Linked DNA regions of Homo sapiens: region 2 is linked to region 1. Evidence: fine-mapped expression QTL. A gene starts in region 1. The other region holds a variant in brackets. All regions are shown on one strand. Distances are from middle to middle.

Evidence for each region.
Region 2: its variant is fine-mapped to the expression of PGBD5 in blood mononuclear cells (TOPMed, PIP above 0.99).

What each region holds. Positions count from the first base shown.
Region 1 is chr1:230,424,113-230,429,464 of GRCh38, forward strand. It overlaps PGBD5 (piggyBac transposable element derived 5), which reads right to left and starts at 2,220. Exons shown (of 7, transcript NM_001258311.2): 1 at 1,486-2,220. The coding sequence starts at 1,816. RefSeq lists a silencer at 2,167-2,486 and enhancers at 2,295-2,842, 2,843-3,389.
Region 2 is chr1:230,576,702-230,582,073 of GRCh38, forward strand. The region is part of intron 1 of LOC107985357 (a long non-coding RNA gene); the gene reads right to left. Among named protein-coding and RNA genes, the nearest start is that of LINC01737, 16 kb to the right of the region's middle. The variant C/T (reference allele first, on the strand shown) is at 3,256.

The sequences.
Region 1 (5,352 bases):
GGACCTGGATCTCAAATGTTCCAGGATCGAAATTACATCACAGATGCTCACGGCATAAAGTCTGCCAAACCAGGTCTGTGGACTGGTACAATTCTTAAAGAGCCAATAGGAAAACAGCTGTCTAGGGCCAGGAGACCTTAATGACATCCTGGAAAATATAGGACAGTATAAAAGGACTATAGAGAGTCAATGATTTTGAAAATTCCCAAGCTCTTAACTACAGCCCAAATGCACATGCTTTAAAATGTACCCACCCCCAAAGCAGTGCACAGCTAACTGTGACTTTGCAAGCCCAGCTTTAGCTCCGCGCATCCACACCGCAGCCTGCCAGAGGTCTGCAGACCACTCCCTACTCAGAGTCCAGCTAACCCTACCGGCCTCCCAGCAGGCTGCAGCATGATGCCCAGATCCAAGTCCAGGCACCAGCTGGAGGTCCCTTGGGCCTGCCTTCCCATGTGCCGTGTTCCTGACCGGTTGAACAATAATCAGAGAAGGCCACAGGAAAAGCCGCATCATGCCCACCGCGGCCACTCCCTGGCCCTCATCAACACCGGTTGCGCGCACTTCTACGGAAGAACACAGCATGCAGGAGCACGGGCCTGCTACAGAAGGCCGTGGAACAAGAAATACCAGCATGAGAGGGCGGCTGGTCTGCAGCTTTCAAAGAAGGCAGAGGCTGCGGAGCTTCTGCAGAGGAAGTGGTGATATTTCAACAGCCAACTCCCACAAAAACAGACAGTGAAGAGGAGTGGGGCAGCCGCAGCTGCCAGCACCCTAGCCACCTTCTCCAGGTATTCGGGGCTTGTCTGTGGCCACAGTGGTAAGCAGGACACACCTGAAAGTACCTTCTGGCGGAAAAGCAAGCACCTTAACGCTGCCCAATCGGTCCCTTCCTTCACTCCTCCCCATTCTTAACAAGAGATCTGGAATGGCGCGGACAGGGAAAGTTTCTCAGATTAAGGAGAAAACTAAGCCAAGTCAAGACGCCGCGGGTGGCCTCTCTCTCAACTCTCACTGGGCCAACTCCTACCTGCCTCGCCCGCGTCACCTGCTGTAAGGCTTGCTCTTGGGCTGTCAGTGAAAAAACGACTCCCCCTGCCTCCACCAGCCACGCCGGGCTTTCAGAAAAGCCCCCTCAACTAGGAAAGCCTAACTTCAATCCACCCCTAAAAGTCCGACCCACAGGTGTGACAGACTTCCCATGCAGGGGCTGGGGTGCTCCCAGGAAGTGAAGGAAAAGGTCCCCGACGACATTGTCACTGGAAAAGTGCTGGCCACGGCCTCCGCCTTACCCTCTCCACCCACGGGTTCGGAGCCCCCAGGAGCAGTCAGACCGATCACCGCTCCTGCAGCCTCATTTGTTTCCGGAGAGACACCCACAAGCCAGCCCACGGAGAGTCTGGACTCGCCCGCCCCAGCACCCACGCCTCCCCCGCGCCCGGTTCCAGCGCCGCCCCCGACATCCACCCGCGGGCAGCCCCTTACCGCCGGTATCCTCGAAGCGCGGGGGCGGGCGGTCCCGCAGCGCTGCGCTCCAGCCCGCGCCGGCCTCGTCCTCCTCCGGCTCCTGTGCGTCCGGGGCGCGGGGCGGTGGCGGGGCGGCCCCTGGGGGTCCCGGGGGCTCGCGCTCGTCGTCCGAGGAGGCGGCCGAGGAGGAGCGCGAGGCGGCCGAGGTGCTGTAGAAGGGGTTCCCGCCGCTGTCCGGGCCGGACTCGCCGAACACGTCGTCCGAGATGTGCAGGCTCTCGTAGCGCGCGCGGGCAGCCTCGAGCAGCGCCGGCGCCCTCCTCCGCGCGCCCCCGCCGCCCTCGGCCATGGCCCCGGCCGCCGCCCGCGCGCCCGCCCCCACAGTGCCTCCCAGCCGCACACGCCGGGCCCTGGGCCCGCGCCGCGGCCCGCCGCCCCCCACCAGCGCAGCCCGCAGCACAGCGCCCGCCGCCCCGTGCCCGGCCGGCCCGCCGTCTTGGCCGCCTCGGGCCCAGCGCCCGGGGAAGCGCCCTCGGAGCTCGGGCGCCGCAGGCTGCGGGCCGCGGCGGGAGGCGAGCCGCGCGCGGGGCTGGCAGGGGCGACCCAGAGCGGGCGGGACGCAGAGGCTGCGGCCGAGACCAGGCGCCGCCGCCGCCACCGCCGCCACCACCGCCACCACCGCCGCCGCTGCGTCTCCTCGGCGCCCGCCGCCTCCCTGCCCGCCCTCTCCACGGCCTCCGGCGCTCGGCTGCCGACCTTCCCGGGCGCGAGCCGCCAGAGGCGGGCCCTGCCGCCCCTCACCTCCCGCCCGCCGGCCAATGGGGAGCCCGGCCCGGACAGCCGCGGGGGAGCTGGGCGGGCCCGGCGCGGGGAACGCCCCCACCCTCCTCCGCGGGGCGGGGCGGGGCGCGCGGCCGGGGCTGGCGGTTAGGGGGAGGGCCGCCGGCGGCAGTGCCGGTCTCCTCCTACAGGGACGCGCAGCCCGGGACCGCCACGCGCAGCGCGGGAGGGGGAGGGCGGGACCGGGGAACAGGAGGGGAGGGGGACCCGGGTGCTTCCAGCGGTCCGGGCCCGCGGACGGAGTGCGGGCCGATCCCGCTCACTGTCCCCTTCCGCAGTCCGCGTGCAGCTCCAGGGAGCTGTCCGCCCCGGTGGTTCTGAACCAGGCGCCGCCGAAACGCTCCAGGTAGGCGGCGGGCCCGAGGTCACCACACCCGCGGCGGCGGCTGCTGCCGAGGTTTCCTGGGGGTCACTGCCAGCTGCGCCGCATGCTCCCATAAATACAGGGGCTGTCCAGCTTCTGGGAATCTCGCTCTAATTAGGAGCCCGCCTCGCCGGTCCACTGTTGGTCGCTGGTCAGATGCTAACTCCGTCTCGCTTCAGTATCCCTGTAATTTAAGGGTGCCAGCACTGGAGTTAAGTAGCTAGTCATTCCTCATCATCGTTGACGTGTGGCATCTTTTGAACTCAAAATATCCATTACTTCCAAATACTAATTACTCTCACACCTCTATTTTAATATCTCCTTCACACACACACTTGAAACACTCATGTACTGAAATATTGCATGATCACCCAGGCTTCAGTGCTCTCATAAACAATAGCACAGAAAGGTTGCATCCGCCCCTCTTCCTTGGGCAGGAATGTGTGGTGGTCATCCTGTTGATGGCGATACGCGTAACGGAGACTGCCTTGTCTTCTTGCTCCCCTCCTCCTCCTTCGAATAATGCAATAAGTCACACTAATGGTAAATGGGCCATAAAGTCACTTTCACTCTGAAATAAAATAAATCCTCAGAGATGTGAAGGGCTTACAAATCCTACTGAGCATTAACTAAATTGTAGTTACATGAAACAGAAAGGCATGTTGCGATTTCTACGAATGCATAAAGGATGAAGGACCATTTTGCCGCCAAGTGGGGTCACTTCTAGTGTCGAGCAGGAACCTTCACTCATGCCCTCCCCTCCCCAGCCCCTGTGGTTCCTCCTTCCACATCAGGGGCTCTGCACAGGCATAGGTTCATGATCATCACTAACAGACAATATATAAAAAGGAAAAGATTCATGGAACTTTCCTTGCTATGTGGATTGGCTGAAAAATGAGGAAGTGCTTGCAAAGCATTTTTACTCTCTTGGAAGAATTATGCCACGGAAAATATCTGGTTTCCAACATACCTATATACTGTGCTAACCAGCTGAAAGTTGTTGAAGAGAGTACAGGTAATCTGACTTATCAAAAAGGGTGATAGTAAAGCATAGGTTGAAGATGCAAGAAGAAGAGTAAGACTCCATAGCTCAAGTTCAAATTCTGCAATTAGGAATTGTGTGAGGCTCCTGCAAGATTTCATGTTATCTATTTTAAATAGTTGAATGGAAAAAATAATTGAATGGGATTCAGAGAGTTAAAATCTGTAGGAAAGAGTTCCTTCTTTTCTTCTCCAGCTAGCCAATGAAAAAGTCAACAGCTAAGGTACGTGTTTTAAAAACGATGAATTGCTTTGCTACCCATAAGGAACCAAGGAACAAAACAACAGCAGTGGCAAGGATGGACAGAGTCTTCCGGTGTCCCTAATTTGCATTTGTATGGTGCTAATTCCCAGGAAACCTTGGGGCCTTGTGCTTCCTAGGCTCACAAATGCTTGTAGCTCACACCACATGCAACACTGAGGAGAGGATTATATGGACACAAAAGAAACACTGAGAAGTCAAATTGTTACTTCAAAGCTTGTCCAATAAAAATTAGATGAATATTTCAACTTAGAGTGAAGTATTTTATAGCACTTACATTTGTTTAAGCCAGTTTCCAAACAAGAAAAGTAAAAACATTCCAACCTTTGAAAACAGATGACTGCTTCTCACTGTGGTAAGAGAAGGAGTGAGGGGACAAAACAATTGCAAAACAAAAGCTTTCTCCTCTGGCTGGCATCCTCCTATTTGATAATGACGATTATGATTCTACATCATTAACTTTTATTAGTAACATCATTTCTGAGAGTAATTATAGAATATATATCACACTGAGATCTTTTAACTTTGAGTCATTTGAAAACATCTTCCAAATAATTTAATTATAAAATATAATTAAATAATTTTAGATTAATATTGAGCTTTTGGTTTTATGGTTTTCCCAAACAGCTCAAGGTAGTAAAAAGCAATTCATTTGTGTAGTAGATTCCTTAGGTTTTGTTAAACCAATGGTTCATGCTTTTATGTAACTAGGGCTAAGCACCATATTTCATTAAGTCTAAACCTCCTTTCATGGTACAGTGAACCATTGTTTTATGTATCACTAAAAAAGAAAAAAGTGCTGCCATAGGAAACTATGATACAATGGTTCCTTTTCTGTTCTAATTATAATTTAAACTTATTGAAAAAGCTATTTGATCATAATTTTTGGACAGATTTTTATTACGTATCACTCTATTGCATGCATACAGATAAAATATAAATTAATTGATTAAAGTTTTCCGAATTTCACATTCAGAATCTCACTATCCTTGTTTACTTTCTAACTCAGAGCTGTCAATGCCCAGGTTTTCTCCAGAATATGCTCCTCCAAGTCACTCAGAGCATTTGGTATGCTGCATTTCTTACACAAGTGCTCCTAACTCATCCAAGCTACTGGCCTCCCACTCTATGTGTCCCCCAAGCAGGAGCATGCTAGCTGTGGTCAGCCAGCACTGAGGAGGCAGATGACAGAGCTGAGAGAGAAGTGGTAGCAGATGAAATCAAAGAGGAAGTTGGGTGGGTGTTAAATCTTGCAAGACTTCAGATTTTATTTGGAGTGATATGGGGAGGCACTGGAGAGCATAGAGCAGAGAAATAAGATCTTGATGCTGATGTTTTGTTTGTTTTGTTTTGTTTTGTTTTGTTTTACCTAATCCAA
Region 2 (5,372 bases), 150 kb after region 1:
CTTTAACTTCTTGCCAAAAAGAAAATGCCTCAAACTACAGCATTATGAGAAGTCTGACCACTTCAAAGTAATCCAATGTGACTTTTAGAGTGGACAGAGCCACCAGGAGTGGTGGCTTGCCCCTGTAATCCCAGCTACTTGGGAGACCGAGGCAGGAGGATCCCTTGAGGCCAGGAGTTTGAGGCCACAGTGAGCTATGGTCTCACCACTGCATTTCGGCCTGGGCAACAGAGCGAGATCCTGTCTCTATAATTAATTGATTAAAATAAAGTAGACAAATCCTTTGAAAAGGATTTTCTGCTGGATTTGCAGCTTTTCGCTGTTTTCATCTGAGCTTCTCAAGAGAGTTGAAGAGATGTTGCAGAGAAAGTAAAGTTGAATTGTGAGTGACAGACGTGGAGGAAAATACCTGTTTGAAAATCTTGTGATGATAGATGAAGATAACTGTTTTCCAAACATTTTCTAGAAAGCTGGAGGAATATATGGCTAAAAGCACAGGTTCTGCCTCTGCCTGAGTTTAAATTCTTAGTCTCTCCTTTGTATCTATGATGGAGAAAGTTACTTCCTGAACTATAGTCTCTTCATCTGAAAATAGGGGTAATAACAATATCTATCTCCTAGGTAAATGTAACACATGTCTGAGGCATTAAGCATGACACCTGGTATCTCATAAACCCTCAGGAAATGTTAGCTATTATTTAAAAACCTTACTAATATACCTATTTTGTGGATAAGGCAACAAAGGGCTAGAAAGGTGAAGTATAACAAGCCCAAGGTAGAGGCAAGATTTGAACCTAGGCATTCTGACTCCAGCACGTCATATGTAAGTACCTAATTACTACGCACTGGTGCCTCCTGATGGCCCATTCCCCTTCCCTGGCGGGCCCTCCCCCTACCCCTCCTCCTCCTTCTTCTTCTCCTCCTCCTCCTCTTCCTCCCCTTCCTCCTTCTTCTTCTCCTCCTCCTCCTCTTCCTCCCCTTCCTCCTCCTTCTTCTCCTCCTCCTCCTCCTTCTTCTCCTCCTCCTCCTCTTCTTCCTCCTCCTTCTCTTCCTCCCCCTCCTCCTCCTTCTTCTCCTCTTCTTCCTCCTCCTCATCTTCTTCCTCCTCCTCGTCCTTCTTCTCCTCTTCCTCCTCCTCCCCCTTCTCCTCCCCCTTCCCCTTCCCCTCCTTCTTCCCCTTCCCCTTCCCCTTCTCCTTCTTCTTCTCCTTCTTCTTCCTCTTCTCCAGACAAGGTCTTGTTCTGTTGCCCAGAGTGCATTGGTGCAAAAATGGATCACTGCAGCCTCAACGTCATGGACACAAGTGATGCTCCGGCTTCAGCTTCCCAAGTAGCTGGGACTACAGGTGCACCACCATGCCTGGTTATTGTTTATTTTCTGAGGAGACAGGGTCTTGCCATGTGGCCCAGGCTTGTCTTGAGCTCCTGGGCTCAAGCGATCTTCCCGCCTCAGTACCCAAAGTGCTGAGATTACAGGCGTGAACCACCATGCCTGGCTCACCTGACTTCTTAAGGACTGTCTTCCTGTGTCCCAAGACTCAGTCAAGACATTTCTATGAGGTTTTTCCTGGCTGTTTCTTACCAAATGGGTCTGACCCCTCCTCCTTTTGCACCCTGTTTCTGTACATCCTTCTTTACAACATCCACGCCATCACTCTGTGGCTCTCTGTTTACTTGTAGAGAGCAGGGCCCAGTTTGAGTAGCCAACCTGCCTGAAACCCACCCAAGCTCTGGACTTTAATAAGCAGATACATTCTCTTTTTGCTTAAGGCTGTTTGAATTGGTCTTTCTGCCACTTGCAGAAGAGACTTGATGTACATCTTTCATATCCCAAGGTTCATTCCAATCATGGACCTTACTTGAACATGAAAAAGCTGTACACAGGGTCCTGGAAACCTTCCTTTAAGTGGACATCAGTCAATTAATCAATATCCTTTGGGTATGGTTATTAAACCAGTGACTACTCTACTTAATTGTAAATAGCATCTAATCCATATTTCCTTACACTGTTCTTAAGCAGGTCATGAAAAATTGCCAAATTACTGGTACACTTTCCAGATCTACCTATCAATGCCATCCACATGGAAACGAGAATTTTCTAAGTCACTGGTTCTTAGACCGGGGATGGTTGTCACCACTGATAACACTGCTAGTGCAGTGGGGGGCGTGGGGTGTGGTTCTCATCTATGTGGTTTCTCATGCATCTCCTTGATGGTGAGAATTTTCTAAGACTCTACAAAGTTTCTTAGCTCTCTCCCATGTCTCCTCCACTTCGAAGATAGAGTTCTTTAGCATTTGTGCACATATGAGCCAATTGTCCCTATAGCACTTAGAGACAAGTAGCCCCATGTTGGGAAAGAAAAATAAAATCTTGGAACCCCAATTCACTTTGACAGAAGGAAAAAAAAATAAGCCAAAAGCTGAATCATGCAAGAAGCTGTCTATCCTTTTGTTCCTAAGCAGATAGCTACAGATGAAAGGTTAAATATCCCCACAAATAGCTACTATATATTCACCTTATCTTATACAAAGTGCCACCTCACTGAGCACAAGACTAACTCATAATTGACTATTCCCTTACCTGCTCCTTTTCTCTTGCAACTTGTGGGTTCTGTACTGTGACCATATTCTCCCTCTTTCCTCTTCCACCTGCTTTTCCCCTGTAAATATTGACGCCCTCAAAACCATCTTTGGAAAATGGCATGGAACAGAGATTGCTCCCACAAATTTGTAATCCTTATTTCTGGGCGTGTTTTTAACTTTGGCAAAATAAACTTCTAAGTTAATTGAGACCTGCCTCAGATACGTTTTGGTTTACAATGTTATGTACACACCTGTGTTTCCCATATTCTGTCCTGTCTCAGTCAACTTATTGTATCTTTTTTTTTTTTTTTGTAATGATTGGTTGCATGGCAGATCTACAGTCACTCAGACTCTTGGACTCAAAGAATAGCAGACCAACAGCAGCAATCAGCACCACCTGGGAGCTGTTAGAAATTCAGCATCTCAGGCTCCATCCCAGATTTACTGACTCTGAATCTGCATTTTAACAGGACACCAGGTCATCCGCATGCACGTGGAAGCTTCAGAAACACAGAGTTAAACTTCGCGTAGTGGAACGGCGAGTGGTGTTCTTCTGGGTTGCCTTTGCTAGTTTGCATGTTTTCCAACTGTCCATGACGTCTCCACATCAAACGCCCTCCTGAATAGTGGCTCTCAGCTGAATAATTGGTCGTCTAATGCCTAAGTTGTTAAA[C/T]AAAACAAACTTTGAAAGTCAGCTTTTTTTTTTTACAAGCCTTAGCTCACAGTGGCCTTTTGCTTCCTGCTGTTTTTCTTACGTATCCGGGCTGTTCTGTTCTGTTTCTGCGTGGCCTTTGCCTTGTATCCACCATTGGTATAGCGTGGTGATATGCTTTCTTTCTTTGAATTTGCTTTAATTTTTAATATTATATATATGGTACCTGAGATATTTTGATACAAGGATACAATGTGTAATAACCACATCAAGGTAAATGGGGTTCCATCACCTCAAGAATTTATCCTTTCTTTGTGTTACAAACGTTCCAATTATACTCTTTTAGTTCTTTTAAAATGTACAATAAATTATTGTTGACTGTAGTACCTTGTTGTGCTATGAATCTTTTTTTTTTTTTTTTTTTTTTTTTTGAGATGGGGTCTTGCTCTCTCACCGAGACTGGGGTGCAGTGGCCTGATCTCAGCTCACCACAACCTCTGCCTCCCAGGCTCAAGCAATTCTCCTGCCTCAGCCTCCCAAGTAGCTGGGACTACAGGGATGCGCCACTACTGCCTAGCTAATTTTTGTATTTTTAGTAGAGACAGGGTTTCACCATGTTGGCCAGATTGGTCTCAAACTCCTGACCTCAAATGATCCACCTGCCTCAGCCTCCCAAAGTGCTGGGATTACAGGCATGAGGCATCCCACCTGGCAGGATACTAGATCTTATTAACTCTATCTAACTCTATTTTTGTACCCATTAACGATGATATGCTTTCTGGACAGGCAGACTTATTCTTTGCTAATGCCTCCTTTTCTTCCAATATCATTTGCAATTGCATGGTTATTTGGCTTCTTATACCACCCTATCCCCACCTGTTGTTTGCTATTCCCCCACCTCTCAATCACAGGTTTATTGTAATTTTGGTTAAATCACTTTAATTGTCTTCATATTGTTAATTACACATCTAATATATTATAGTTCCTTTCTTTTATAATTAATTGCTAATTATGGATTTAACCATCGCTTAAATTTAAGTGCTGAAATCACTTTCATTTTCTTAGGCATTTATGTGCCTCTAGCCAGTTCTTCCCATTTTCTCCGTAGCTTCTCAATATAATTTTCTACATGATGAAGTAAATTTTAATTTTCTTATGATTCTATGTATGTGTAGATAATTCTTCCCATGCCCTCTACAGCTTTTCAGTTAACTTTTCCATGAGATGAGAGAAGCTATCGGTTGTCATTTTGTTCCAGAGACATCCCTCCTTGGAGCCGTCTGGCTTCCTGTTGTAATTGGAACGAATTGACAGACAGGCCAGCGGCCCAGCTGACATTCTGGGGCTTCCTTTCATTATCATCTTGCTTATCAGTGTGGGTCCAATCAGGAGACAGAAAAAGGGGAAGTTTAATATAAGCAATTATTAAACTATTATAGGAGAATAACTATAAAGATGTAAAGAAAACAAAAACGGGTACCCGAGGGTTGGGAGAAAGGCCCTAAGGAGGGGCTGCCTGGAGGGGCGCTTCTTCCCCAGGTTGCATCCTTGCTGAGAAGGTGCGGTTGCAGACTCCTCGATGGCAAGGGAGTTTCTGGGCTACTGGGGCCTGAGCTTCTCTGCCTTCACTTGGTAAGCAGGAATCCGGCCTCTTGAGTGTGAGCCAGCCAAGGCTGGTGGGGGGCATGCAGAGGGAGCGGAGGCCACACTGCAGTCAAAGCCCTGAAGCACAGTGTCTGTCCCGGGGCTGGGCAGGGGGTGGAGGATGGGGACACAGCAACGTGGTTCCTCGGCCCCAATTAGGACCGCAAAGCCTTAGGAGGCTCATGCTCTGGACGTGTGGCTGGGGCAGAGCACCAGCGATGTTTCCACACAGAGCGCACTGCGGGTGGTCAGAGCGGCGGGTGCAGGAAAAGCAAAGCACAGCCACTGCAGCTAGAAAGGACGTTCCCTAAGTGCCCTTCCACTGCCCTCTACTGACGAAGCTTAACATCGTGTTCGCTATAAAAGAGGAAAGCTTGAAAGCTCAGTTCATTTTTGCACAGCAGGTACTGAAGGGTGAATTTAGAGCTGACAGGCCATAAATGCACCCCTGGCACAGACTACCCCTTTGAATACCCAGGTTTCATACACACTCT